4 linked regions of the Homo sapiens genome follow. The protein of the gene in region 1 purifies or fractionates together with the protein of each later gene. This does not show direct contact. Each region holds a gene or a part of one and is shown in the gene's direction. Other genes may lie near its edges. The genes, in order: INSYN2A, LRBA, SECISBP2L and MTR.

What was found.
Region 2: the proteins of INSYN2A (region 1) and LRBA purify together in Homo sapiens (affinity purification with mass spectrometry; 2 studies listed by BioGRID and IntAct, with this or other methods). This does not show direct contact.
Region 3: the proteins of INSYN2A (region 1) and SECISBP2L purify together in Homo sapiens (affinity purification with mass spectrometry; 2 studies listed by BioGRID and IntAct, with this or other methods). This does not show direct contact.
Region 4: the proteins of INSYN2A (region 1) and MTR purify together in Homo sapiens (affinity purification with mass spectrometry; 2 studies listed by BioGRID and IntAct, with this or other methods). This does not show direct contact.

What each region holds. Positions count from the first base shown.
Region 1 is NC_000010.11:127,193,162-127,201,386, reverse strand, and holds the start of INSYN2A (inhibitory synaptic factor 2A), read left to right. Parts: upstream 1-4,795; 5' UTR 4,796-5,390; intron 5,391-5,609; exon of another isoform or gene 5,610-5,836; intron 5,837-6,112; exon of another isoform or gene 6,113-8,225. UniProt on the Homo sapiens protein: Component of the protein machinery at the inhibitory synapses, probably acting as a scaffold. Inhibitory synapses dampen neuronal activity through postsynaptic hyperpolarization.
Region 2 is NC_000004.12:150,843,775-150,851,558, reverse strand, and holds part of LRBA (lipopolysaccharide-responsive and beige-like anchor protein), read left to right. Parts: intron 1-656; coding exon 657-835; intron 836-1,983; coding exon 1,984-2,137; intron 2,138-2,560; coding exon 2,561-2,741; intron 2,742-6,779; coding exon 6,780-6,901; intron 6,902-7,351; coding exon 7,352-7,459; intron 7,460-7,784. UniProt on the Homo sapiens protein: Involved in coupling signal transduction and vesicle trafficking to enable polarized secretion and/or membrane deposition of immune effector molecules. Involved in phagophore growth during mitophagy by regulating ATG9A trafficking to mitochondria.
Region 3 is NC_000015.10:48,988,138-48,995,230, reverse strand, and holds the end of SECISBP2L (selenocysteine insertion sequence-binding protein 2-like), read left to right. Parts: intron 1-2,304; coding exon 2,305-2,987; 3' UTR 2,988-6,593; downstream 6,594-7,093. UniProt on the Homo sapiens protein: Binds SECIS (Sec insertion sequence) elements present on selenocysteine (Sec) protein mRNAs, but does not promote Sec incorporation into selenoproteins in vitro.
Region 4 is NC_000001.11:236,797,753-236,805,536, forward strand, and holds part of MTR (methionine synthase), read left to right. Parts: intron 1-5,675; coding exon 5,676-5,890; intron 5,891-7,784. UniProt on the Homo sapiens protein: Catalyzes the transfer of a methyl group from methylcob(III)alamin (MeCbl) to homocysteine, yielding enzyme-bound cob(I)alamin and methionine in the cytosol. MeCbl is an active form of cobalamin (vitamin B12) used as a cofactor for methionine biosynthesis.

The sequences.
Region 1 (8,225 bases):
ACATGGACCAGCACCTCAGAAACAGCTCTGGTTCCCACCAGAAGGAAACACGGCTCGGCTGCCAGGACCGTGCAAGAGCCACGGGCAAGGGGCTTTACACAAAGCGAGAGTCTTAAACCAGAAATAAGCCCAGAAAGAGGAGAGTGAAGGCTCGAGCAGAATATGACAAGGGGAATGATGCAGAAAGCCTTCCTGCAGGGCTTCTCGGCAGAAAAGGAGGCCCCACTGGGGCACCTTGAGGATTGTGTCTGTCTTGTTCTTGAAAGACAAGGCTAAAGTGTCCCCAAGGGAATGATCTCGACCCTACAGGTCGAAGGCGATATGAGTTACTTTTCCCTCGTAGGCGTTGAGCACTGGCTGATCTGCTACCACAGCTTCTGAACTGACGGGTGTAACCTGCCCATCACAGACTTAGGTTGGGCTCATCTATGAGTCTCTTTGGAATATGCAGATGTCAGAGGCATCCGAACCACAGCGACTCCATTTTGAGTGAGGACTAGAGAAATGAGGCTGAGACTTACTGGGCTGCATTCTTAGAAAGTTAGGCATTCCTCACCTCTAGATGTTTAAGGTTAAGGGAACACACTGGTGATGTTTACTAAACAGACCCAGACTTGGGAGTGTCCTAATATCCAGACATCCTGAGAACAAAGGCGTTCCTAATTTTACTTTAAAGATAATAATATCGGGCGCAGTGGCTCACGCCTGTAATCTTAGCACTTTGGGAGGCTGAGATGGGTGGATTGCCTGAGCTGAGGAGTTGGAGACCAGCCTGGGCAACATGGTGAAACCTCATTTCTACTAAAATACAAAAAATCAGCCAGGCGTGGTTACAGGTTACTCAGGAGGCTGAGGCACGAGAATTGCTTGAACATGGGAGATGGAGGTTGCAGTAAACTGACATCACGCCACTCTAGCCTGGGCAACAAAACGAAACTCTGTCTCCAAAACAAAAACAAAAACAAAAACGAAAACAGATAATATCGATTCTTGCAAAATATAATAATTAAGAAATTTAATCCTTTATCACAAACCCTCGTAGCAGAGCAGAGCTCCCCATATATATGAGTATTGTACCTAGGCTGGACGCATTCCTCCTCTTACTTTTGGGAATGTCCCACTCTGTCTATGGAGTAGCTGTTCTTTCACTACTTTATTCTCTTAATAAACTTGTTTTCACTTTGCACAGTGGACTCGCCCTGTGTTCTTTCTTGTGTGAGATCCGGGAACCCTCTCTTGGGATCTGGATCGGGACCGCTTTTGTGTAACAAAGACATGGGAAAGAAAAATTCACGTCCATAGCGAGCTCTGTCACAGCGACATCGGACAGTTGGGAGGGCAGGCGTTTCATCGGCAGTCTCCTAAAGAAGGAAGTTCTGCTGTGTAGCTAAACTGGAAGGCTCCTCTTCTGCAGTTGCTAGTTTGGAGACACTTTTCTCTTCTCCTGCCTTGCACACTGGAGAGGATACAGGTTAATCACACTGACAGATACACTGGTTCACTGAGGGGTAAGGGTTATTGGGGAGCATGCATGTGGACATTGCAATGACACAGTGATGATGCTCAGACAAATGAGGTCACACTGAGACAGGAAGCATCTCCATGAATTTCTATATAGGTGGAAAACTGCATAAGCAACTAGTGCAGGAGACAGAATGATCCAGCACCAGTGAAGTTGCTGTGGTCCCGGGCAACGAGTATGCCTCAAAGGTAATCCCCATTCTGATATTTTCCACCATTGATAACTTTGTCGCATTCTTGGACTTCATCTAAAGGGAATCATGTCATAAACACTGGGCGTCTGGCTTCCTTTGTTCTGCACCTTTGTAGAAGCCCTCCATGCCAAAGCATGCATCAGCAGTTAGTGCTTTTGGGTTGCTGTCTAGTATTCCACTATACGAAGAACCAAGAAATCTTTATCTACTGTTGACTGGTATTTGGATTATTTCCCGTTTGGAACAGATATAGATAAACCTGTTATGAACATTCTTGAACATGTTTGACTTGTATATTCTTGACTTTTTAATGTGGAAATTGAGACCTCAAACTCACTATACCATAGGGGTGGAATTCCAGCAATTCTCTGTACAACCCCTGCACAATTCCAAGAAGAAGGCAAAAGAAGAGAGACGTGGATATTTTGCTTAGTTAGCCGTCTTGAACTTTCCCTTATTTTTATTCCTCTGCTTTTAGGAAATCCCACTTGAAAAGTAGCTATTTTCTCCTTTGCAAGTCTATCTTTTTCAACAAAAATCTTAAGCAAAATATAAAAAGCCAATACCAATTGATTCCTAAAATGAATCTATCAAGTTTCACTTTTTTTTTTTCCTGAGGAAGCCGAGCATATTGACTCATTCTAGACCCTAAAAATATGCCTACATCCCATCTATTAAAAAAAAATGCAAGAGGGATCTGTGGGCAGGAAGATGGCTGAAACTCCCTTCTCTCCAGCCAGCCCCCAGCATGATGCTTGCTTTAAAGCCTGGAGCATGATGACACACACCTCACCCATGTGGAATATCTCTCCAGAGCCAAAGGTAAGGTGAGGCAAGTTTTCACCAATATTTTGATTTGTGATGCTGAAGACATGCACTTAAGCACTACAATATGTAAATGGTTTCCTACTTCAAAAAAAAAAAAAAGAAGCGATGCCAATGATTTTAATAGACTTAGCAAAACAACTGTAAGTCTACTACACAATTGAACAACTCTAAGCAGTCCTGATGATGCTACAGAATTCCGTTATACTCTCCTCTTCATGTAAGTGGATTTTCTAACCTGCCAATTACGGCTTTCCATTTTCTTCCTGGAGTTATACATCATGCGAATCTCAGATAGCACTGTCCTTGGAGCTGTTTTCTTGCCAGTTCACAGTGCCACCTGTGGCTGAGCACTGCCTTGCTGGGCATGCATTTATGTTGACCTGTTTTCACTCTTGGTCCCGGAAAACTTCAGCCTTCTGATACTACCAGCCCAATGCCCAAGTTTCCTGGCAGCTTTATTTACAGTCACTTTAAAAGACGGAAGGCAGATTTCAATTTTATGGATTGCCAATAAAGTAAGATTTACAGAAGTTCCCCAGACCACTGGGAAAATTACTGGAGCCCACAGCTGCAACAGCACATCCCCAAGGGAACATGCTGGAGAGTGGCAACTTCTCCTATCTGGTTTTAAACGTCCCCAACTCCTATACATTCCCTTCCCAGGCCCCTTCCAGGCAGAAGAGGGGACTGCAGTTTCCATACTGCTCACACAAAATTAAGCATCTCTTTCCAGCCAGCTCCCAACAGCCTCCCTGGTAAGCTGGAAAATCAGCTTGGGGGATCTGAGTTAAGAAGAACAACAAGAAGAGTGAGGTGGGCAGAGTTTGGATCCACAGGCTCAGGACTCCCGTCCTGGGCATATCTGGATCCCCAAGGCTGGCAAAATTGTATACCAAAGGATGCTGCGGGGTAAAGAGGGAAATAGATGACATTTTAGATTTTTTTTTCTTCTGAAATGTCTGGACACACTGCCCAAAGCATCCACATACAAAGAAGGTATTTCGTATAAAGTCATTTATAAAAAACAGACACTCTATAAGGCAGTGATAGGCTCAGTTCAGCTCAGCGAACAAGGATGGAGCTATGGCTTGGTCACAGGCACAGAGCTGGTGCTAGGTGCAGAGACTCAGGGATGTATAGGCAAAGAGGTCTCACTGCCCACTGATGTGTCTGGAGAGGTGGGTGGGTGAAGGGACTTTCCATTTGTCCTCCCAATTTCCTCTCCGAAGCCTGTCCCTTCCCTGGGGTCCACTACTTCTCTGACCTTTCCTGAGAAACAGACTAATAAATGTGGCTACTTACATTTTACATTACATTCTAGGAGCAAATCCAGGGGGCCAGGAGCCCTGCACTCGGCTGGCTGCTTAGTCCCTGGCCCAGACCCCAGGGCCTGACAGGCATCAGAGGGGCCCCTGGGTCTGCTGCTCTGAGCTCAAAACACCCAATACTCTTTGGTGGGTGGGAAATTAAGGGCGGGGATAGCTCCGTGTGCATCCTAGGTCTTTTCCTCTCCCAAGAGAATTCTACTCTGCCACAAAGGAACTCAGCCTCTGCGCCCTGTGGCTTCTGCTGACGGGTGGTGTGTGCTCTGGATGGGGGGTAGGGTTCCTGGCTAGGAGTGGCAGTGGCGCCTGCTCTGGAGTGTCCCTAAATGTCAGCATGCAACATTACCAGGCAGGCCCTCCCACTTCAGTCCTCAGGCCACTCATAGGACCTCCTGTCCCCATGTAGAGAGGCTGACACCAGGTTGGAGCCAGCACTGAAAGGATCCCCGAACTCCTGCTTCTACAAGGCAGCATCCGCAGGTGAGCGGCCAGGCACCTACAAGACACGCACCCTTCAAGCCTGGCTTCCCAAAGCCCCGCCGGGCCAGGCTGGCTGGCACAGCAGACAGTCATGCAGCAGGGTCCCCAGCGACCCCCCATCCCTGAGAGAACACACGGAGTCCCCCGCCCGCCAGCTGCTCCGGAGGCGGCTCCAGGGTAGACTCAACAAGTTCCCGGGCCATGCAGCGCCGCCTGCAGCCCAGAAACCCGGAGGACGCGCTGTGGCGGAGCCCCGCGCGCAGGCGGCAGCCGGCGGCAGCCGGCGGCAGCTCCTTCCACCTCCTCCTCCTCTTCCTCCTCCTCCTCCAGCTCTGGCGGCGGCGGGAGGGGGCTCCTCCACTCCCTCCCTATCCCCCACCCCACGCACGCGGCCCGGCCCGGCCCGGCCCCGCGCCGCCCCCGCCCCACCTCCGCCCCGCGGGGCCCGGGGCTCCGCCCGCCTCGGTGCCAGCCGGGCGCACAGGCGGCAGGCGCGCGGCTTGGGGCGCCCTCGCCTCTGGCCGCCCGGCTCCGCGGAGTAGCTGGGACCTGGAGCAGCGGAAAGGACTTCCCTCCTGCTCCCTCCTCTGCCCCGCCCCCGCCTCCTGGCCCTGGCTCTGAGATCTCGCCGAAGACAATTGCAGTAAATGAGGACATCGGAGGAGCGCGAAGCCGGGTGGCTGTGGCTGGCTCCGCCGCGTCGCGAGCAAGCGAGCGCGCGGGCGTCCCCGGAGCTGGCCCAGCCGCTGCCTCCCCGCGCGCGTCGCTAAGCGGGGCCGGAGGGACGCGAGCGACGCGAGCTGCGGCGCGGGGGCCGGCCGGGCCAGCAGGGCCGGGCCGGCAGCGGTGGAGGGGGCGGGCAGCAGGCGCGCAGCGGGCCAAGTCCCCGGAGCCGAGGCTTCCTCCGCGTGAGCGCGGCGAGTCTGGCCGCGGATGCCCTGTCCGGAGTGCTCCGTGCCGCCCCAGGCTTGCCAGGGTCCGCAGCGAGACATGCCCGAGCCAGGCGCTGCATCGACCTCGACTTATCTGTAAGCAGCGGAAGGTAAGCGGAGCCCCGCGTGCCCTCCTCCCGCGCCCCCGCGCCCGTCGTACTTGGCCGCGGGCAGAGCACCGCTGGGACGGGCGCCGACCCCGATTCGGGCGCACACACTCGGCCCCAAACCGGCTTGGCCGGAAACTCGGCGGCTCCCGGGGCCGGGACACCCCGGTGCAGCCGGGAGCGGACCCGGTGCGGTCGCAGGTGGGGGGCAAGGTTATGCAACTGCATCTGGCGCGACCGGGTCGCTGAGGGGCGTCTGGCAACTTTGGCGACGTCAGGGAGGAGCGGGGCTGCGCCTCTGCGATGTGGGTTCCAGACAGACGCCACAGCTTCGTGAGCGCCCGACAGCCCTAGCCAGGCAAAACTGGGAGATCTGGGGGCGGCCGTCTCCCCGGAAGGTTTCGAGGCTTTTAAGTATTTTCCAAACTAAAGCGCCCTGGAAAGTACAAGTACGGCTGATTAACTTCGGGGGGGGGATGAGTTGGAACAGAGGGGCCCTGACGCCGGCCGTTGAGGAGAGGCGCGAGCAGCAGTGAAGGCAGATGCCCACGTGAAATGCTCGTCTCCTCCACTCGCTGGGGTTGGCACCTTCCCGGGGCTGCGGGTTGGGGTCGGCGCCGCGGGGCTTCCCGGTGCCTGGCAGCCCGAGTCAGACCGGGACAGGCGTGGGAAACCAACCAACGCTGCAGACCTAAGAGACTGCGAGCTGGCGGGCGAGGGCAGGAGGGAGGAGGGAGCCCGCGGGCAGCCCGGGGTCGGGGCAGCTCCTGGAGCCCAAAGTCAAGAGCGAGAGTCTGCATCTTGCTGGTTCATGCTCAGGGCTCCAGGCTGATGTCCCCACTGCTTGGATAAAGAGCCGCTCCCTGTGACCTCAGCATTCTACTACCCAAAAATATGCCACAGGGAGAGGGAGCCAGTGATAAAGAGATGCCAGGAGTGGGGGAGGAGAGGTGCCTCTGGAGTAAATAGGAGAGAAAATGGGTGCGTTTTGCTTATCTACAGCCCAGGGCTCCCGCCCGGACCCCTCTCCTGCTGTTGGTCTGTGCTGGGGAGCTGCACGCGCTCTGGGCCCCTGCGCCAGAAGCAGCGGTGAAGCGGTTTACTTTGACCTTGTCTGCTTAGGCGCTGAAATTCTGCGGAAGCATCCCGAGGTGAAACTGCAAGAGTGGGAATGAACTTTGGGGGAGCCCTGCCTTGGCTGGGAAGCCAAACGATCATTTCAGAAGACTACAGCTCAGGATAGCACAGGGTAGACGTCTGTGCACTTGAACGCTCCCCCCTCAACGAGGACTTGCTAGAGGGTTACCTTTCCATGCCTTATCTCAGTGGGGGGACTGTCAGAGTGACTGCGCTGGCTGGGTACTTGATGAAAAAATACCACTCACAAGACCCGGGCCATTCCCAGAGTAGTACATACATGAAAATGATATAACCCTTATTAAGCTTACGCTACAGCAAGTTACCGTCATTTCACTATGCAGAGGCGGAAAGTGCTGGTTTTTACTATTCCCCCACACTGTACTATTTCTTACATTCATATCCTGTTGAATGTTACTTTTGAAAGTTCATATTTATCTTTGCAATTTTTTTGCAAGAATGATTAGCAAACATGCACAAGGAGCTCAAAGAAAAAATGGAAGTCCTGCCATCTGCATGCCTCACCAGATATTAATCATTTACTATCCATGTTTACTACTTACATTAGATGGCACTGCTCCTCACGATGGTTTTATTAGAGGCGCATTTGGTTAAGGAAAAGAAAAAGTCTAGCACAGCTATCACTAATTGCATGATTTTGCATAAATTACATTAGCCATGGAGAGTTTTGTTTTCTTCACTAAATTCATCATTTTGTTTAAAAGACTAAACAATTCAGTTTAATTTCTTTAGCTAAATGAAAGACTTTTCCTTAAAGACAAGATGTCCTTGAAAAGCTACATATGTCTTTAAACTTATTACAGTTGCCACGACTTTGTATTTTATCATTGTGATTAAGACTTTGAGCTTTCATGTAAGTCAGGCCCTTTATCCTATTAAGAAACAGAATTACTGGTTAAGAAATAGGCTAACAAGGCAAAAGCTGGGAAGCTCCATGTCTGCACAATGAGATTTCTGCAAGCTCTATGGGAGGCTGGGTACTCTATTACTCTGTTTACTTCGGGGGCTTCTCTGTTTTGCCACAGTTGTTTTCCCCTGTGGCAGGAAAGGGAATTTTTGTGTTTTGTTTCTCCCTCTGTAGGGAAAAATTTTTAAATAAATCAATAAATAAGAGAAAGACTTGTACGTGAAAGGCATTCATCTACAAGGAAGACTCCTACACACTGAAATAAGCAGTCCAAAAATCAAAATGATTCTCAGAAATAACAACGGATCGCAGTGGAGTGGCAGGACAGACCCGTTCACGTAGACATTTGTATTCTCTTGTTTGCGCCCAGCCATGGCTATCTCATTTAGAGACAACTACTGAACTCTGGAATATGAGAAGCAGGTGACTTATGCTTCTCAGAGACTCATGATACAGAAATGATCACAGCTACCTCCCAAAGCAGCAGCTCTGTGGTCAGATATTTACGTAGGAGGGCAGTGACAGGTTCACCACGGATTTTAACGCTTGTGAAGGATGCTGTTCAACGCGTCCATAGCATCCAAGAAGCTCAGTTGGGAAGGCAGGCAAATTCTACATACTTGAGGCAAACCACCGTCATTCTGGGAGTGTGAGGTCATAAAAACTCCCCAGATAAAACCAGTGTCATCGTCATTTTCAACAGTCTTTCATAAATGTGAAGCACCACAACCCCTCCCCACCATGATTCCACTGGTTGGAGACCTACATTCCCC
Region 2 (7,784 bases), on another chromosome or scaffold:
ACATTAGTTTTCCAACAAACTCTAGGGCTACCTACCTGCCAGTGTATAATTTTAGTTACTAAGCATGTGATTTAAAATTGTATTATGAAGTCTATAAGAGAGAGGAGGCTTTGTGAGATCTAGAGGCACAGCCTTCTCCTCTGTCCATATCTCAGAGTGACCCATGAGACAGTGCTTGGTAGCATGTTGTCATTTTCCACTTTATTCAATTCTTATCCTCTGTCCCACCCTCCTTTTTTTTGTTTTTGTTGGTTGGTTCTTCATTATGTTATCTCTGTTTTTATTCTTCATTCTAGCCACTTCATAATCCAAATGCCACTTAGATTCTAAATACTGCCTTTCTTTTAGGCTAAGGCTAAAAACTAAGAACTGTTACTTGATTCTTTTATAAAATGCTACATAGTGGTAATACTTAACATGGTTCCAAGTTAATTACTTTTAAATTGTGGTAGTTTTGCACTTTTGATAGCTTTGCTTACATGTACTAAAATGTTAATGTTATTACTCATTGATAATTTTTCTTTCTCTAATTTGGTTCTTATAGTGTCTTAAAAACGTGTTAGATGAATTGCATAGAAGCTACTAAATTATTTACTTTGCTAAAGCCTCCTGCTGAAGTTGAACCTATTTTATTACTTTTTAAATTTCTGTATTAGATATCAAGGCAACATGAGCAGCCAGGGCAAGGAATAGCACCAGATGCAGTTAATGGACAAAGGAGGGATTCCAGATCTACTGTGTTTCGTATTCCTGAGTTCAACTGGTCTCAGATGCATCAACGTTTGCTCACTGATCTATTATTTTCAATAGAAACAGATATACAGATGTGGAGAAGGTTTGTCTATATGTTTATTATGGAAGATGTGTATAAACCTAGTCTTTATTTTCAAAGAAATCCATAGAAACAGTTTGTAATTAATTTCAGACATTTGGTTAAAAAGTAGAATAGAAATTATTCTATGGTAGGGTTTTACTGAATTCACTTTTATTCTCCATTATAAGAATGGAATCCTTATCTGGATTACAAAAATGTGAAAAGCAGAGGTTTCTCTTTTAAAAAAATTTGTAGTAGATTTCCTGTAGCAATTTTATGGCACGGAATTCACCAGAAGGTAGGTTTATCAAGTTGGTTTATTACTAGAAGTATTAAAAAATAATTGGTATAGGCCGGGCGCAGTTGCTCAAGCCTGTAATCCCAGCACTTTGGGAGGCCGATGCAGGCGGATCATAAGGTCAGGAGGTCGAGACCATCCTGGCTAACACGGTGAAACCCTGTCTCTACTAAAAATACAAAAAAATTAGCTGGGAGTGGTGGCGGGCGTCTGTAGTCCCAGCTACTCAGGAGGCTGAGGTAGGAGAATGGTGTGAACCCGGGAGGTGGCGCTTGCAGTGAGCTGAGACCACGCCACTGCACTCCGGCCTGGGCGACAGAGCGAGACTCTGTCTCAAAAAAAAAAAAAAAATTGTTATAACATTATCAATATTTCCAATGTATTTTTAGCATTAAAAAAAATCTGTGTACTTCAAGTTATCCCCCATTGTATGATTTATGATTTTAAAGTGACCTAATTTATTTTTTTTTATTTGTGTAAGATTCTTGTTATGTTTAAAAGCATTTTATAGGCATTACAGAAGAAAATTCATTTTTAATAGCACATTTACCAGTATTTACCTCCTAATTTTTGTCACATGATTTCTTAGTTTTGTTCCCAGTAAGGATAATTTTCTTCAACTTTTTATATCCAGTGTAAAATGAATAGTATTTATGTTTCAGCACTGAAGGAGGGCATGGATAGTAACTACTGATATGGAATGGTCTGTTTCTTCTGAAGAAGTATACACCCTCCAAATGCCTGCTGCATCATCTTCCTTCAGTTTTCAAGATGAAGCAAAAGCACCTTCTTATCTTTCCTCCCCTCAAGTAGGCAAACTGTGATTTCCTTTCTTTAGCTTTATCAGTAAATATCATTTATCTTTGGACAGCCATTCAACAAAGACAGTTATGGACTTCGTGAATAGCAGTGATAATGTCATCTTTGTACACAACACAATTCATCTCATCTCTCAAGTGATGGACAATATGGTCATGGCTTGTGGGGGTATACTGCCATTGCTTTCAGCTGCTACATCGGCTACAGTAAGGACTTAATTACTATAGAAAATTGGTGTGAAAACATGAGTGTTATGCAACTTTATTGACTAAAACTTAAATGTGGTGGTTACTATGCATCGTAGGTGCTATAAATAAAAAACAATAGGATCTTTTACTTGAGAGGACCTTAGAATCTGTTCTAGTAATGAAAGAACTTAAAAGAATGTTGATTCCCTAAGTATGAGTCAGCTAGTGAAGAATGTGGTTCATGATGTTTCACCTGTATGGTTCTGTTGCTCCTCCTCATCCCCCACCCTTTTTAGATGAAATAATAAGTATAAATCACTCTGTGTTACTAGGTTTCTGAAAGTCTGACTACTTATGCAATTTATAAATTTTAGGACTATATCTGGTAAAATTTTTTTTTCAGAATATATATATATAAATGTCAAACTTTATTCTTTACAGCATGAACTGGAAAATATTGAACCTACTCAAGGCCTTTCAATAGAAGCCTCTGTGACATTTTTGCAGAGGCTAATTAGCCTTGTGGATGTGCTTATATTTGCAAGTTCTCTTGGCTTTACTGAAATTGAAGCTGAAAAAAGTATGTCATCTGGAGGAATTTTGCGGCAGTGTCTCCGACTAGGTGAGCTGCTAAAAACCGTTGGGAATTTACTAAAAAAAATTTTTCAGTAATTCAGAGATGACATTGAAAATTATCCGTCTTCTGTTGGTGAGAAAATATATGTTAGCTAATTTGTCATATGGTTACTTTTTTTAATGTACATAGTAGTAGTTGGTAAGTTGGATGGGCAAGAAGGAGGATGTATTTTGAAAAATTTACTAAGGTGATTTTGGTCAGGAGTTTCCACTCTCCCCTATCTTTTTTTTTTTTTTTTTTCTTTTTTCTCCCTGAAATGGTGGTTCTGCTTTCTTGCCAAGGCTGGTGTCAAAATCCTGGGCTCAAGTGATCCCGCCTCCTTATCCTTCCTAGTAGCTGGAATTAGAGGTGCTCCCCTATCTCTTTTTGCTCTAAAGTAGTGCTTCTGAAATTTTAAGGAGATACATAAACTTAAGGTGATTAAAAAACACAAGGTGATTCATAAATTTGATGATCTTGTTAAAATGCAGATTAGATTATATAGGTCTAGGCTGGGGTGGTGGCTCACACCTGTAATCCCAGCTCTTTGGGAGGCCAAAGTGGGTGGATCCCCTGAGGTCAGGAGTTCAAGACCAGCCTGGCCAACATGGTGAAACCCCGTCTTTACTAAAAATACAAAAATTAACCAGGTGTGGTGGTGCACGCTTATAATCCCAGCTACTTGGGAGGCTGAGGCAGCAGAATCGCTTGAACCTGGAAGTTGGAGATTGCAGTGAGCCAAGATCACACCACTGCACTGCAGCCTGGGCAATTGAGCGGGACTCTGTCTCAAAAAAAAAAAGGGTTATAGAGGTCTAGGGTAAGGCCTAAAATTGACTACCAAGTCCCAGGTGATGTTGATGCTGCTTTTCTTACAAACACACTGGAATAACAACGTTCTAAACTAGCATCATTCAAGTACAGCCTTTATTCAAAAAAGCTGTGGTAATTTGTTAATGCAGTTAATAAAATCATGAAATCTCTGTTCTTCTCCTGGAAACACTTCTTCCCTAAGTAAAAGTAAAAATACATGAAATGACTTTTTAATGTTAACTGGACTTCTTAGGTGAAGCAAAAAACAAAACAAAAAAACCCTTTTTTGCATAATTTTCCTTCTATATAGTTGTAAATATCGAGACTTTGTTAAATGATTTGATTATTAAGTGAAGAGAAGGTGGTGAGGAGAGAAGGCACAAGAAATGGAAGCAAACCATTAGGAGCCATGGTCATATGAAGAGATAAAGCACCTATGAAAACATAACATGGAAGTGGAAAATGTAGTTAATGACATATTTTTTCATATTTAGCAAGAATGTCTGTTACATAAACTAATGTATACCTGTGCTTTTTGCCACAAGTATAATTTTTACTCAAAATGCTATTCAAAGTATTTAATAGTATTAGTTTAAATGTAAAATTCCAAGTATTTTATATTTAATAATCAATGGTATATCTTGCTATTCTAAGTAACTTGGAATAACAATTTATAGACAGTTGTTTTAAAATTTAAGAGACATTCTAATTGTAAGCATAACAAAATAAAAGTTATCATTTATTGACTATTGTCATTTGTCATTGTTGATTTTCACGGTGACAATTTTGTTCTTTTTATTCATGAGGAAATTGAAGATAAAAGAAATTGGGAAACTTATCTATAGCTAAAAAGCTATAATTGGTGAAGGTAGAATTTGAATACTATACTTTTGTCTAACTAGTGCTCCTACTCTTTCTATTGTAGTATACTTCTTTAATCTATTAGTATTATAATTAAAATATTTAGACTTTATTGCTTTATGTGTGCCATTTTCGAAGGCTTTTCACTTTCCTAGAAAGAGTACATTTCTAGAAGTAAAAGTGCAAGGCTATACTAGCAAAGCCTTACTCAAGAATCATCAGATTCAGAGGCTAGGGAAATACTCTATGTTCCTAGTTTTTCATAGCCACGGAAAAGAATTAAGAGATAATTTAATCCACCCCAGTACCATCTGTTCTTATATATGGAAATGGGACTTAAAAAATGACTTGTCCAAGATCATTTAATAGAGTATGGTAAACAAAGTAACAGTCCAAATGTGTGATATCTTTTTTTTAAATTGTATTTGTGTAAATTTATGGGGTACAAGTGCAATTTTGTTACATACATGGATTGCTTAGTGGTGAAGTTAGAGCTTTTAGGGTATTCATCACATGAATAACACACATTGTACCATTAAATAATTTCTCATCATCAGACCCCCCTCACCCCCTCATCCTTCTGAGTTCTGAGTCTCCATTTTCTTTCTTTTTTTTTTTTTGGAGATGGAGCCTTACTCTGTCGCCAGGCTGGAGTGCAGTGGCAAGATCTGGGCTCACTGCAACCTCTTTCTTCCGGGTTCAAGCAATTGCCCTATCTCAGCCTCCTGAGTAGCTGGGACTACAGGTGTGCCCCACCACACCCGGCTAATTCTTTGCATTTTTAGTAGAGACGGGGTTTCACCATGTTGACCAGCATGGTCTCGATCTCCTGACCTTGTGATCCCCCCGCCTCGGCCTCCCAAAGTGCTGGGATTACAGATGTGAGCCCCCACCGCTGGCCTGAGTCTCCATTTTCAATCATTACGCACTCTACTTCCATGTGTACACACTATTTAGCTCCCACTTATAAGTGAGAACATACAATATTTGTCTCTCTGTGTCTGACTTGTTTCACTTAAGATAATGATCTCCAGTTCCATCTATATTGCTGCAAAAGACATGATTTCTTTCTTTTTTACGGCTGAATATTATTTCATTGCGTATATGTACCACAGTTTCTTTATCTAGTTATCTGTTGATGGACACTGGTGTCCTCATTCTTGTTTCCTGAGGTTGGAGTTAGAAGTTAGGATGACAGCAGTAAGAGTAACTGATTGAAACCAGGAAATGAGGTGTGATTTTTAACTTTGTAATACAGACTCAAATTTGATTTTATGCAACTTGTGAAAAAGTTTGTATGAAAAGTATTTCCTGGGTCTGATAGCAAATTTGATAAAGTAAAATATTTCTTGGGTCTGATAGCAAATTTGACAAAGCTGTATTCCATATTCTCTCTTCCCTCCTCTTGTTCCCTCCTTCCTTTCTTTCAACTTTTATTGCTCTCTTTGGGCACCTTTCAGAACACTTTCTTTCTAAATTCTCATGCCTGCTAGCCATGTGATAGGCCAGTGATTCTTTGTGAAGTCCCCCCTTAAGTTTGCTATTTTGTTCCTAATTTGCTCTCCCTCCTTTGCTCAGTTCAAGTACCTTGAGTGCTACAGATTTGGAGGGAATTTAGATGATTACATGGTATCAAGCAATTCATAGTGAAGGGTACATAATGTAATTCATCATTTAAAATCCAAAATTAATTTCTAAGTAATCTAACTGCCTGATTCGTGGGAGCCTTAGGTAATTTTAGACTGTATATTAATCAAATTCCCTTTCCTGTCTCCCATTTTCTAAGCAGTTTTAATGAAAGCTAGTAAATGCTGGACCCTATAAAGCTTCTTTCAAAAGCTATATCCTCTATTAGTCTCAATTAATATCATGCTGTAATGATGCAATATAAGAAGAACATCAAAGTTTCCAGTTTAACTAATTTACTTTAATGATGGTAATAGAAGATTGTTACCTCGACTAGTTCATGGTAATGTACTTTGTTCCCTGTTTTCTTCCATTTCTTTCAATTCTTTTCTTCCCTATCCTTTTCTTAACTAAAGATTGTCCCAGCTAGCTTAGTTGAGATCTAAGAAATAGTAGCCTATTGTTAAGATTCCTGAACTGATTTCCTTTCAGCAAACCCTAAACGTTTAGACCACTAGGCCATACTGCCTCCCTAAATCTTAACTGGGCCACAGCATGGAAGCTAACAATATCAGACAACCAACACTAGGCGATAAAGTCTAGGGACATTTTAGGAATAAGCTGAATGTCGTCTGTTTTGAATAAAATCTTATGTAAATCATATTGTGTAGTTGATGTTTTTCACTTCCATAATCTTAAATATTAACTTTTCTTTCCCTATCTTTTCCTTAAAATAAATTACAGTTTGTGCAGTCGCAGTAAGGAATTGCTTGGAGTGTCAACAGCATTCACAACTGAAAACTAGGGGAGATAAAGCCTTGAAACCAATGCATAGCCTTATTCCTTTAGGGAAATCTGCAGCGAAGGTAAGTATACAGATTAATTAATTTTCAAAAAGCATACTCCTATTTTACAATTAAGATTTTTATTTGTTCATTTCAACATAAAGTTAAATAAATCTGGCAGAGATTAAAATAGTTACTTTAGGCCTGCATATAACATTCAAATATTTGTGTTTAAATACACAATAAAGATTTGTTTATATTTAAACCTCTCTGCTTTTCCCAGTGTTTACTTTGATTGTTTCTGTGATGCCTTTTCCTTCAAATATGTCATTTTTTCCTGCATGCCATCTTTCTCCACCTCTCTCCCCAACCCCTCAAAGAAGAAGGAAGCATACACACAAAAAAAGTGGGGAAAGGAATGCTATAGCTTTGCTTTTCTGGTTCTGGGAATACTGTGTTTATTTTTAAAGAATATCTGTGTAATGTATATATGAATATATATATATACAATTTTTTTTTAATCTTAAATAGAGCCCAGTGGACATTGTGACTGGCGGTATATCTCCAGTAAGAGATCTTGACAGGCTTCTACAGGACATGGATATTAATCGGCTTAGGGCAGTTGTTTTCAGAGACATAGTAAGTTACAATATGTCTTTCACATACTCTCTTAACTGATGCATATTTCCTCTTAGGCCTAATGTATTGAGATTAAAAATTCTTTGTGATATCAAATAGTGGAGCAGAGATAGAAAGGTCTAGAAACGACTTCTTTTGACAATGATTTTAGAAACAGAATATTAGAAAAGATAGTTTATATAAAGCGAGCTAGCAGATCAGCATAGTGATATTAAAAGGAATAATGCATTATTACATAGTAAGCAGTCTAAGTGATATACATGTATTAATTAAGTCCAACAACTTATTGAGCTGTACTATTGTAATTTCCATTTTATAGATGAAT
Region 3 (7,093 bases), on another chromosome or scaffold:
TAGTGAAATGCCGCATCTCAAAGGCAAGCCATAAGAGAAACCTGTAAAGCTGTGGGTTTGGACAGATGACAGAGTAACAAATGATATGGGCACATATAAACACAAGTAGTATAAAACGAAAGTCTCAGAGATTGAGGTGATGTTTTCAGAAAGCACCAGATTCAAAGTGTTCAAAGATTGAAGCCTTGGTTTTTCTATACTCTGCCTAAAGGTTTTAGGTGTAATCAGTTAATCTCGGGGTCTTGGATTTCTCCTTAGAAAAAAAAACTGTTGAAATGTTAATGTGCATCTAAAATTTTTAAACATTTTGTGCCTTTAAAATTTTTTTTCATAATTAAATATATGTGGGAAAATTTTCACTTACTAGACTGTTTTTTTTTTTTTTTTTCCCCAGCACTTACTATATACCAGTCATAGGGACACAGAGATGAGCTGGAGTGGAAGTGAGGAGGGATGAGGAAGGTGAAACAGCAAACACAAAACAAGGCTTTTGACTGTATATGTAAAAAGTACTGTGGGAGTTCAGGTTAGCGATTGCCTGTCAGGAGTTAGGAAAAACTTCATGAAGGAACTAACATTTAAGAGTGGTTATCAAGATGAATAGGAGTCTGAAGGGGAAAGGAGGAAAACACATCTGCAGAAAGAGTACAGCTGATGTTCCAACTTTAGGGAACAGTGAGAATTTAGATGACACTGAGCATGGAGTGTGTGGCCTATGGCGCAGGGTCAGAAGGCAGTAGGACCAGAATGATAGATAAGGGCCAGATCATGAAGGGCTTTGCTGTGCCACGCCAGGGATTTTGGATTCTATCCTAGGGTGATAAAAAGCCAGTTAGACAATGATATAATCAGTTCACAAAACCGGTTACGAAGATGTTACAAATGAACAGCAAGAAAAAGAAGGCCTGAGCTAAGGGAGTAGTAAACAGATTTAGTAGTTTTTGAGCTACAGGTGTCATGGTATAGTGATGAATTCAGTGGACTAAAGGGATATAATACTAATAAGAGAGAAAAGTAGGATCAAGTGTTACTATAAGGTGTCTTCTGCTTTGAGATTGTGTAAATGATAATGTCATTAGCTGAGAATGAGAATATAGGAGGAGGTGATTTTTTTTTTTTCATAAGGTAGAAATGACAGTGGAAAGGACTCATTCTACACTAAAGTAGCTTCAGGAAAGAAATTTTTTCCCAAACAATGTATCCTGACTTGAAGTGCCCAAAACATGTTCTATATCAATATATAGGCCATAGATGGTGACCATATTGAACATACTAATGTGAATAGGTTTGCTACAACTTGATAAGAATATTATACCTATAAACTGCAAATAGTAGCTGTAATGTCAATATGATAGAATTTTTATTTTTTAAAAAAATTTGAAAAAATACAGGGGTGAGAGATCTTTACTGATTCTTGGTACTTTTTTTGCCTTCAACTGATTTCCTATCATGAGAAATAATTTAGTTTGTCATCACTGTAGTATATAATACTTTTTTTGTCCTCCAAAATCACTTTGTAAGCCAAGCTATATATATATATATATTATAAAACAACCTTTCACAGATGTTAGAAATGCATGGATGGATTCTTTGCTTATAATTGGAAACACATGTCCCATTACAGGCCAAAAGATAATTTAAATAACTTGCTGAGTGAGCATGGTACAAACACATGAATCAGAACTATTATTGCTGGACATCTTGGCTCTTCTATCTCTTGGGTTGTGGGTCCTTGAGCCCATTACACCTCTAGGCTACCAAAAAGTTAGGCAGTTTATTGATTTTCATGAATATATGGATTTTATTTGTGAATGCCAGTGAGCTCCTATTGGTATAAGATCTCTTGCATTCTGAAGCGTTAATATACTTATTTTTACCTCCCTGTTTCTTTATCTTGAATGTACATTTTTGGGAATTATTTTCCCTTTATAACATTTAAATTAGGTTGGGCACAGTGGCTCACACCTGTAATCCCAGCATTTTGGGAGCCCAAGATAGGAGGATAGATTGAGCCCAGGAGGTCAAGGCTGCAGTGAGCCAAGATCATGTTGCTGCATTCCAGCCTAAAAGAGCAAGACCCCATCTGAAACACACACACACACACACACACACACACACACACACACACACTCTCTCTCTGTCTCAAACTAGTACTAAATAAACTAAATTTGTAGTTTTTCCAGTCAGTTTCTAAGCCAACAAATTTATATATTTTGTTGTTCTTTCTTTTTTGGGGGTTTTTAAAGAGTTGCATGATTTTGAAACAGTGTTCTGGTTTTTAAAAAATCTGCTTGATACTTGTAGAAACAAATTGGAGAAACATGGTGGAAACTTCAGATGGACTGGAAGCATCAGAAAATGAGAAAGAGGTATCCTGTAAGCACAGCACTTCTGAAAAACCCAGTAAACTTCCATTTGACACACCCCCAATTGGTAAGCAGCCATCATTAGTGGCTACAGGCAGTACTACCTCAGCTACAAGTGCTGGGAAATCCACAGCAAGTGATAAAGAGGAAGTGAAGCCAGATGACCTGGAATGGGCCTCACAGCAGAGTACAGAGACTGGCTCTTTGGATGGCAGTTGCCGAGATCTTTTGAATTCCTCCATCACCAGCACCACCAGCACTCTTGTACCTGGCATGCTTGAAGAAGAAGAAGATGAAGATGAGGAGGAGGAGGAAGATTATACTCATGAACCCATATCTGTAGAAGTGCAGCTCAATAGTAGAATTGAGTCTTGGGTCTCAGAGACCCAGAGAACTATGGAAACCCTTCAGCTTGGAAAAACCCTTAATGGTTCTGAGGAAGACAATGTAGAGCAAAGTGGAGAAGAGGAAGCAGAGGCGCCTGAGGTGCTGGAGCCAGGGATGGACAGTGAGGCATGGACTGCTGACCAGCAGGCCAGTCCTGGGCAGCAGAAGTCCAGCAACTGCAGCTCGCTCAACAAAGAGCACTCTGATTCTAATTACACAACGCAAACTACGTAACTCAGGAAATGTCGGCTCTCTATCTCCAGCTGTGGAAGGGTTGCAGCCATTACCTTTTATGCTTCATCTCAACATTTTGCACTGTCCAGTATTTAATATACGTATTTAATTCCCAACAAATATTTTTGTAGCTTTTACTTGTTATGATCTGTAGCTTAGCTTTTAATTAGTATCTAAGTGTCTTTCTAAGAACTGTGTGGAAAATTCAGATCTGTTTCAGCTTATTTTGTAATCAAAAACAGTGATAAAAAGAAGACCAGATCTTAAAGAAAATAAATTTCAAATGCTTACTTAAAAGACATTTTGAAAGTTAAAGAACAAGGTTCTAAGGATAGAAGCAGTTATCAGTGTTTGCTTCAGGACTCCACCTCCTCTACTCTAATTTGACCAAAAAATTGTTTGGGCTTCTTTAAAAAAGAACTGGGGGTGGAGTCAGAAAATTAAATGAAAGGCTGAGGGTAACTAAGTCCACCAGTGTTGTATGTTAAAAAATCAATGCAACTTTTATGTGGTCCACAAATGTTTAGTCAGAAGTCACTGATTATTGTAATTAATTAGTGTTGGGATGGGCTAAAACAGAGCCTTCAAAACTTCGGCTAGCAGTGGAGCCACCATCTTAGATTATAGCTAGCTAGCCTCATTTGTGGAAAGTGATAGATGCTGTCTATAATAGTGAACAGTCACCCATGATAGGACCTCCAGGTTCTGTCTCATATTTGCTTCTTACTTACCTCAGGAATGCTCTTGTACATAGACTTATTTACAAAAAGCTAGGCACATGTTGACAGGTGAATAACTGTAACCGATTGTATGACTGCTGCACTTACATGTAAACTCTTCAGAAACAGAGTCTTATACTGGTGTGTTCTCTTGCATGCTTCTGGTTCAGGACTCTTGATTTGAGATATGGATTTGATTGAGTATCCAAACTTGTCCTGAGTGCAAAACTGTTTCACCTTTTAAAAAATACCTATTTTGCACCTAGCCTTGAGCACCTTCCACATAGCAATGACCATAGTTACTGTCAGGAGGTCAAGGAAAGGAACTTTGCACAACTTGTGACATGTATCCTGATAATCAAGGCTTAGAGGAGGAAGTTTTAGAAGATAAGAGAAAGTTGTTCTAATTGTGCTGAAACTATTAGATGATTTAGAGTATACAGATATGTAGGTATTAATTCTCTATTCACTATTATTTATCTCTGCCCTTCTCTAGGAGTTTGTATACCTGCTTAGGAGACAATAAATGAGCTAAATGTTTTATTTGCTAGTCAGTCACCACCTGGACTTCAGTGACTTTACAAGTTTATGTAATGGTGGAAGAATGACAAACTATGTAATTTTTTTGTCTTCCATCCAACTCCCCACCACCCCCAACTGTCCCCCCCACCCCCCTCACACACATGCACACATCCGTACGTGTGTGTGTTTTCCACTTACAAGCTTCCATAAGCAGGCACAAAACTGAGAAGGAAGGGGTATTATCCCTGCCCTGATTATCTGGGGCAGGGCTTTGCCTCACAGAGGCAGGAGAGAAGAATTGGGCAGATTCTTTACTGAACTCATTGGGACTACTGTGCTAGTTTTGATGTTTTATAATGCTGGCATTTAATTACTGGAGAGATTGGATTCTTGGTTGATGATTTAGTATTTGTGAATTGTGAAAGTTCAGGAGCTGTGTAGAAAATGTTAGTCAATCAACTTTATTATTGTGCTAAAAGGGGACATTCTTATACTGTCCTGTCTAAACTGTTCTCCAGTATAGACTTCCTAGGCACTAAATATCCAATATTTAAAGGAACACAGCAGGTAAGGAATGAAGCCTCTGAAATAGTACTCATGGATTTATACATGGCAGATCTTACTGTCTCTACACATTTGGAAGTGTTCGTTGGTTTAAAGAAATGATAGAGGTTTTGAACTACTGACAGTCTTAAAAGTGAATTTAAAAACTGTTCATACTTTTTATGGTGTAAATTTCCTTTGCTCGATGTCAGTGATTCAGATAACTCTTGACCTTGAGATGATGGCTTTTCACAGGTTTCTTATATTTTATATCTCTTCTGAACATGAATTGTCATTTTAGATTTTTGACATTTGTATCAAAAGAGAAGTTGAGGAAATCTTCAGAACACTGGTAACTTTTAGTTTTGCTATAGACTTCAGAAGTGTTTATTTATATGTTCGGTAAATGCTCTCGCATATGCAGTACCTCTTCTGCCAGCAAATCCAAGGGACCATAGCCTTTTTATGAGACAGGTCACCTCTAGAGGACAACCCAAGAATTATTAAAGGAAATGTTACCATTTTGAGAGCATGCTTAAATAAATATTAATAATGTCTTTATAACTTGTTTCCTTTAAATTTTGGAATATTGAATTACAGGCTTTGGAGGAGTTGTGAAAATTAGGAAAGTTTTTATATATTTTTTGAAGTGGGCATGGTTGGCTCTTTGAAGACCTATAAAGAGATCCAGTGGGAAGAGTAAGGGTTGGTTCATCATCACAAGAAATAAAAAACATAGTGATTTTTTCTCTTAATGTGTAGAGGTGGTTTTACTGGCAATAATTAATAATAGATTTCTATTTCAGTATGTAAGCATATTAACTAAAATATGAATTACACTTCCAAAGTTAGATTTCTGCTTCAGTAGGTTTGTTTGCTGTGAAGATTACTTCTCAAAAGACAGATGTTCATATTAGCTTAATTTTCGGTTTAAATATGTTTGTAAATGATGTAATATATTTCTTTTGACTAAATGTGGAAAAGTAATGTGTGTTATACATTGAGAAGTTTTTACTGGCTTTGACTGGAGGTTGTTTTTGCAGAGATGGTATTTTATATGATTCCAGTATTTGGAAAAGAATTAGTCAAAAGGAATTCACATAGTTTAAATACTGAGAAATTAATATCCAAATATGTACTTGTCTGATTTCTAAATAAGCTGGGGGAGGAGGGAGGGGTGGGAATTGAAATGTGCAAATGAGTAGTGAATGCTACACTCATTTTCAACTCTTTAACATGAAACTGTTCAATCTTAACACATTGTTACTTTAATATATGTATAAAGAAGTATTACTGTTTGTAAAGCTGCTGTTTGCTTAAAAAAAAAAAACACCCTTGTCATGTATTTTCTGTATGTTGGGCCAACAGGTTAGAACATCAACTCATTTAAAAATTTTTATCTTTTTTTGATTTAAAAAAATTCTGTGAAATAATTTATTTACAGACATCTTCCTCCTCCCTCATCCCTTCCAACCTTTACATACATCACAGAATCAACCAAACTGTTTGCCTAATCTGAAATCTGAATCCTAATGAGAAAAATTTAAATTTTGTTGGCACATCACACCTTGAAAGTATTTGTATTATTTTATAATTTAATTTCTAAATATACCACATAAGTTTATAATTTAATGTCTTAATTGTAATGCTCTAATAAAAAACTAGCAAAATTAGTGTGAGTTATAACATGAAGGGATTTTCATCTTTTGCTGTATGAAGGATAATTGTTATATCACATTTGGGGGGTAATAACAGCTTTTTTGCACTATGTAAATACTAGTGGGGATTCTTCTGTACTAATAAAATGATTATTGAAATGAAATCTGTCCTTTCAGAAGAGATACTTCAAGAGTTCATGACTCCCCACAAGTAGAAGACAGAAAAAAGAGTCCAGCTTGAGTATTGATTGGTGGTCATATGGAGTTGCCAAAAAAGGCTGTAAAATCGTCACGAAGGAGTTAAGAATAAAAATCTCCATCTGGGATGGTTGGTGTGATCTGCGGCATGGGCCCAGGCGTTTAGCCAGAGACCATCCTGGTTATTAGGAGAAGGCTTCTATAGATTCCTTCACCTTTTTATATTAGTTCCTCTGTGCTGGGCACTGTTCTAAGTCTTTTCCCAGTATTAACTCAATCCTTAAAACAGTCCTGTGAAGTAGATTTTGGTTACTATTTCTCACTTTTCAGATGATGGAAGAGTCATGGAGATGTTAACCCAGCCCCATACCAAAGCCCATGCCCCAATCACTGTACTTTGTTATGTCTTGGCATAAGGTGCACAGGGTGTGCAAGGCAAACATGCTTCCTTCACCTTCAGGTGTCT
Region 4 (7,784 bases), on another chromosome or scaffold:
GTTCGAGACCAGCCTGGCCAACATGGTGAAACCCCATCTGTACTAAAAATACAAAAATTAGCTGGGTTTATAGTGAGCGCCTATAACCCCAGCTACTCAGGAGGCTGAGGCAGGAGAATCGCTTGAACCCTGGAGGCTGAGGTTGCAGTGAGCCGAGATCATGCCACTGCACTCCATCCTGGGTGAGAGAGTGAGACTTAGTCTCCAAAAAAAAACAAAACAAAACAAAACAAAACCAAAAAAACAAAGTGTAGCAAGTCTGTGCAAACTAGAAATTAGAGATCCAAAAATGAAAGAGAGAAGTATCTTGCAAGTGACTTGTAGGGCAGTAGTAAGATTGTTTTTAATAAAGCAAAGAAAGAACAGTGCTGAGAAAGCCTTGGGATCATTTGATTATAATGCAGAAAATAAAAATGTGCTTTTGCTGTATGTGTTCCCCATTTAGCACAGTGGAAAGAGGGGTCCTAAGTAAGTCAGATCTATTTGGGGTCATTTTACCTTCAGAGCAGATGTGTTCTTGACACTGCAATTTATAACTTACATGCACATATTAGGAATTTATTTGTTTAGGCCTTCATCTTGTCATTCTTTAGGCTAGTTCTTAAAGGTGGTACTAGCTGGTCTACCCCCCTCCAAATCTGACTAGGGCTTTAACCACTTATACCTATGTTTATTCTTTGGAACACTTGCTGTGAATCAGAATATTGTTAGCTAGAAAATAAGATGTTAAGGGCACGGAAAAAAACCCCACAAAATATATTGGCTAAATCCACTCAAAACTGGAGAAAATACTGTGTGATCTCTTAGGCTCACTAGCCAAGGATGTTCCTTGGGACTCTCCTCTGCACTGCGGTTATTTACATATATACATTAAACATAAAAATATTTCTGAAATAGTGTTATAACTAGTCAGCTAAGTAAAGGAACTGCAAAACTATATTCTTATATTTACTGTGAAAGATAATCAGAAAGAATCTGCTTTATTTAGAACTTGACTAGTCAGTAGTTAAGTATACAGAATGTTCTAGACCTAATGAACTGAATACAGATAAATACAATTTTGTTGTTCTTCATGGAAGAGTGACATTTCAGTAGATCCCCACTCTGCCAGGGGAAGGAATTGTCAAGGTGACTTATTCTTTTGAGCAAGTTCTGATAGTAATTGGAAACTGGTGAATTAGAATGGTAATTAAAGCCCAGTGAAAAATGACCTCCTACTGGAAAAACTGGAGGAATACAGAAGGCTAAAAATAGTGAACACTTAATACCAACAGATTTTCTGAAGGAAGACTTCTTAGTTTCTCTAAATGGGAAATCTTACATTATCCTCTAAAGGAAAAATAAGCAAGTAGTTGAGGAAACTATGTTTTTTTTTTTCCCCCTTTTTCTTGAGACAGTCTCACTCTGTTGCCCAAGCTGAGGGCAGTGGCGTGATCACGGTTCACTGCAGCCTCGACTTCCCAGGCTCAAGCAGTTTTCTTGCCTCAGCCTTACTAGTAGCTGGGACTACAGGTGCATACTACCAGGCTTGGCTAATTTTTGTTTTTTTTTTTTGTAGAGATGAGGCCACTGTGTTGCCCAGGCTGTTTTCGAACTCGTGGACTCAGTGATCCACCTACTTTGGTCTCCCAAAGTGTTGGGATTACAAGTGTGAACCACCACACCCAGCCCAAGTAATGGATTTTTAAGGGCCTCAGTTGCATAGGAGTTTTTTATTCAGGCTGCAAAATTCCTGTGTTTTATTATATATTCCTTTTTATCTGTATTTTCTATTCACAATTCTCTTGTTTCCATAGACCGCCTTTTTCACATATATCCATATATTTATACATTTTGTTGTAAACTCTAGTCTATAGGTATTTTTAATTCACATTGTATATTACATTCTGGAATGTACAAGGAACTAACACAAATCAATAAGAAAACAAATTAGCTTTAGACATTGAAGAATCTCCCCCAACCCATCGTCTATTATTTTTGTCTATGGTGACTTTCGTTTAACAGAAATCCTTGGTTTTTATGTAATCAAATTCATTGTGTTTTTTTTTTTTAAATTAAGAGGTTGGTCTTTTTGAGTCTTAAGAAGTTCCTTTTCATTCGAAGTCATAAAGTTCTTCCCAATAAATTATACAATAAGTTTGTCAGGTTTCTGAAAAACCAAAGCAGATGTTTTTAAACAGCTTTTGATCTCTTGCCTATACGGTGGCTCAACAAACAAGATGCCAGAATTTGCATGTGTGGGGCTGGGTTGTTTTGTGGTAAATAGTGAACTGTCTTAAAGTCCAAAAACAAAGCTTATTATTTCTGGATTGAAAAGGGAATACAGTAAGGGCCCCATGGAAAAGTACTAAGACTTTTTATGAAAATGAGGGGTGGAGGCACTCTGAGTGGTTAGATTTGCTCAACTTGTGTGCACTCGCTCAGTGGAGGAGATAGGAAGAAGGACATGTAAATAATAGGATATTGATTGATATTGATTAATCATTTTGCCGATGCCAAAGGACATACTTCACTGTCTGTGGAAAAGATTGCCTTTTTCTCCCTAGGAAGTTTGAATACCTTTTAAATATGAAATTTCATGTGCATGACCTATTTCCCCACTGCCACACCTCATGCTCACACTAGGCTTATGATTCAGTCACCCACTTAAGTTCACGTGATGTCATTTCAGGGAGAATTGCAGCTACATCCTTTTGAGAAGAAAGCGATTCAGCTGGGCATGTAGGTTAGAGTCTTTAGTTCTTAGTCTTCTCATTCCTCCTGTGAAATTATCTACATTTAACAGCTTTCACTGAGTATTTTCTTCTTTCACTCGACTGTTAGAAGACATTTCCCAACCTGCAAATATGCCATTCCTGCCCCAACATGACCAACTGAGAGCTTCAGGCTTTACATGATTTTTCACAGCCCACTGAGCTTTGTAATATATAGAACACAATCTTTAGAGCTTCAGTCCTTGCTGTGCTATAATACCAACATAATAAGAGTAGCTAATATTTATCAGATGTTTACTATACATCAAACACCAATGTCTCATTTCATGACTTGTGTGACTTAAGAGGTCCAGTTCTTAACACATGGTCTCATTTTAGTATCACAGTTCTGATGATGAAGGCAGGGCTGATGTTTCCTCATCTTGCTGAAGCATGGAGAGGACTTGTCTAAAATCCCATAGCTACTAAGGGGAGCTGGGGCTAAAACCCAGATTTCTTGGGTTTTCACACCCTGCTACTATTAGCTTAAGCCTATCAAATTCTGAGTGCTTATTGGCTGATAGGATAGTCACATCATGGAGTGCCTAAATTAACACTACATGTGAATTTACCGTGTCGACTATAGCTTGAAATGGCGCCCACTGCCTGATGCCTACCAGTCTTTCTATTATACATGCTTCATTAAGCCCTACCTTTTCTCCACATTTCCCAAGAAGTGATTTTCTTTGGTTCTTGAAGTACTTTTGTACAGATCATTGGAGCTTAACTTCGTTCCTTTATCAGGAAGTGTTTTATCTCACCTGCAAGTTCAGTAAACACAATTAGCAAGTGAGGTGGCTTTGGAAAGGAATAGTACACCCTGAAAGAAACATAGTGCCCAGAAACTAGATATTGGATATTGCAAATTTTTCTTTTAGGTTACTAGAGCCACCTTCCTGAAGCCCACTTGGAGAAAGTCACTCAAAATAGTTCTGTGACCACCATTTAGCCCCAGTTCTCATATTGTATACTTGAGACTCTGGACAGTAAGACGAGGCAGGGTTGTAAGTTTGCACCCAATACCAGCTTACAAATATTCTTACATTACTGGTTTGGGTTTTAAATTATCTTTGCCTCTTCTTTCTCATCTTCCCTCACTTTTTTGTCATTTCAATTAAAGAAATATTTGCCAAGTACTGACCTTAGTGTTGCTAGGCATGAGTTCCAAGGAGCTCAGATAGCTTAGAACCAGCCCCATTTGACTTGAGCTTTTCTCGCCTCTTAGCACAGAAGGAATGGGTTGGCGTCATTATGGTTTGTTTTGAGTAACATGTATTCAGTCTGATATGCTATAGGGAGTTGTTGAAGGTGTTTGAGCAGGGGAAGCAACTGGTTTAAAATTGTTGTATAGGAAGATAAATCTGGTAGTGGTGCACAGGATGGATTAGAACACAGGGCGACTGGGTATGGTGGTGATCTCTTACCTTTGTAGGACACTTGATAGTTTACAAGGCACTTCCATAGATGTATGATCTCATTTGCATGGATGCAAACTAGAGCTCAGAGAGGATTGGTGATAGCTGGCCTGTGTAGTAAGGGGTTGAAGAAAGGGGTTGTCACAGGGCGAGGAAGGTGGGACCATTGTGCATGGCATTTTAGAGGCCAAATCTATAAGGCTTGGGATCTAAGTAGATGTTGGTTATCAGGGAGAATAAGGAGTCAGATAATACTGAGATTTTATGGTTAGTCTTCTGGGAAGGGTGTTGCCATTTACAGAAATCAGGAGATGAGACAGAGAATATATGCAAGTTTGGTTTTGAATATTAGATTGAGGGGCAGGTGGGTAGTTGAGGTAGCCATATCCAGTGGACAGTTTAAAAGCTGGGTCTAAGATTGGGGCCAGGTGTTTTTGATATTTAGAAGGTCATTGGTGACTTTAGAAAGTAATTTCAGGAGAGTGGTGGAGGAGGAAGCCATGTCAGAAGGATAAGAAATCGGTGGTTGCTGAGGTGGAACTGTGGGAGTGGGAAGGGCTAGATGAGGGAGCAGTGGGAGGTGTTGGTCATCATGCGCTTTTCCTTAGGTACAGAAAGAAGGGAAATAGAGTGAGCCAGACTGCAAGAGGATTTTGAGGTGGAGAGGGTGTGAGTTTGAGGAGCCTCCAACAGAAAACTTCTTTGTACGGGATTAGGTGAAATCACTTGTGGAGTGAGGAGGAAAAGGATTTGGTGCTAAAAAAAAAAGTAGAAATTGGGACAGTAGATGTTGGAAGTATTGAGGGAGGTCAAGAAAAGGTGAACCAAAGGAGGCTGAACGTTGCAAGTTTTCAGTGACTCCAGTCAGCATAGTTTTGTGGCTTTCCAGTAGGTCGTAGAAACCAGAAAGCAGGATTAGAAGGAGTAAGCATTGGGCCCTTTTCTGGACTGGGAATTAGAAGTCAAGGAGCATGGGGAGAGTTGAGAAGTTCAAGGGTGTTAGCCAGTTATTATTTCATAGTTGGGCAGAGGTGAGTAAAACTCTGTTTGCAGGCCATTATTAGTTCTGGCAATAGGTGAGGGAGAAGGTCAAAGCTAATATTTTAAAGAATAGTTTGGAATTATTGATGGTTTTCAATTATCTCTGCTAAATCATTTTATTTAGGGAGTATCTGCACAGAATTAACAAGGAAAGAGAGCAAAGTCTTGTATCACTGGCCCATTATTGCCTGTTTTCCTCATCTGTAAAACAGGAGTAGTGTAGCCTACCTTCACCTTGGTTTCGTGCTTCACCAGGAATTTTGTGCTGTGTGCAATCTTGTATTAGGCATTGTCACGACTTAATGACCTTTTTGGGCAGCGTTTTCCTATATAGAGTTATGAGTGCATCTTTTATAAACTCCATTTACTCCTTATTGGAGATTATTATAAATTTCTCTAAAGCTCCTCCCTCACACATCTTTTTCACCTTTCATTCTTTGAAGTCAAACTTTCACTTTCTTTAAAGAAGGTCTGAAGAAAACCCTGCGGGATGAGATCAATGCCATTCTGCAGAAGAGGATTATGGTGCTGGATGGAGGGATGGGGACCATGATCCAGCGGGAGAAGCTAAACGAAGAACACTTCCGAGGTCAGGAATTTAAAGATCATGCCAGGCCGCTGAAAGGCAACAATGACATTTTAAGTATAACTCAGCCTGATGTCATTTACCAAATCCATAAGGTAAAGTATTCCCAGGTTCCCATGTGTATTCATTCTGTTATTCTGCAAGCTGTTTCATGTATCAGGGCAGGCTGCTATGCCGAGTGCTCCGGAGAATAAAGAATAAAGAGGCAATTTATTCAGAAAGCAGGTTTTGGACATCAAATAAAAGTTATGTACTGTGTTAAGCACTCAGGATAAGGGAATGAGGTAGGTAGGTTTTCTGCCCTTGAGGCATGTAAACTCTAGTGAAAAACTATGAGAATCTGGACAAATAAGGGTTTTCACACTAGTGAGTGTGAGAAAACTATCTTATTTAAGTTACTGCAACAGCCCTGATGAAGAAATGCTTAAAGGTGGTTGGTATCTTAGCTTTGGCTGCTGTATTACCTGTTACCATAGACTGGGTTATACAAGCACACATTTATTTCTCACAGTTCTGGAAGCTGGAAGTCCACAGTCAAAGTGCCAGCAGATCCTGTGTCTGGTGAGGGCCCTCTTGTTTATAGATAGCTGTCTTTGTATCTACATGACGGAGAGCAGAGAGAGAACAAAAAACTCTCATATTTGTGCTTATAAGGGCACTGCTGTGTTCTCAATGTTTGTGTCCCCATGAGATTCATATGTAAAATCCTAATGCCTAGTGTGATGGTATTAGGAGGTGCCCTTATAAAAGAGGCTCAAGGGCGCTTATTCACCCCTTCCACCATGTGAAGATACAGTGAGAAGATGCTGTCTATGAACTAGAAAGCTGGCGCTCACCCATTATAAAATTCTAAGATACAATTATCATTCATGTATTTTGTATTTTAGTCTAGTTTTCTATACTTGGAGTTTAAAAAATTAAATTGGGATTACATTGCTTCGTACTGTCTTATAATTTGCATTTTTTACTTATATACCATGAGTATTAAATATTCTGGAACATGGTTTTAATAACTTCATAATCTATTCCATGTATATATCATCATTTATTTAACTAATCTCCTTATTCCTAGGCATTAAGTTTATTTTCAGTTTTTCTTGTTCTTTTAAAAAAAACTTAAATTAGTTCTTATAAAACAAATCTCGTAGATAATACATTCCCATTTGACCATACTCTAAATTGCTATTTTTTCCCCAGAGATAACCACTGATATTAGTTGGTGTGTGTCGTCCCAGATTCCTTTGTTAGGCATTTTCATATATGTGTATGTGTGTATACGTGAGTGAATATATATATGTAGAAAACTCATAGTACTCTGTGTATGTTTTTTTAATTTAATGGTGTCATGCTTTACGTATCATTCTATTTTTTTTTTTACTTAACAATACTTTGCAGAATCTTTCCATGTCAGTATTTGTAGATATACACAGTTTTTTTGCTGTCACATGGCATGTAATAAAGTGGATATATTTTAGTTTATTTAGCTGTTTCCCTATGGGTAGATATTTCGGATGTTTGTTATTGTTACTATAAATGTGCGTATCTTGGTTTTTATCTCCCAGTGCTTCTGCAACCATTGTCCATCGACTTAAGAGGGGTTGGGTTTATTCAGTATTGGAAAATCAAGGGGGTCAAGGGATTCCAGGTTGCTAGTCAGATTGAGGTTGAGATGATCCAAGGAGTGGAGCCAGGGAGACGAGTTTCGAAGAGAGCACAAAGGAGCATCAAGATCTTCAGGGTTTCAGTAGGGATGTGATGCTTGTTCAGAGAGACTAGGAGATGTAGACTGAACAATTGTGGTCAGAGGTTGAGATCTCTGAGATGGTATACTTCTCGGTGGGCATCAGGTTCTGCCAAAGCAGGAAGAAGATAAGGGAACAGAACTACCATTTGTTGAGTGCCCATTGTGTGCCAGACATTTGATGCATTATCTTTTTGGTGTTGTTTTTTTGAGACAAGGTCTCACTCTGTCACTCAGGCTGGAGTGCA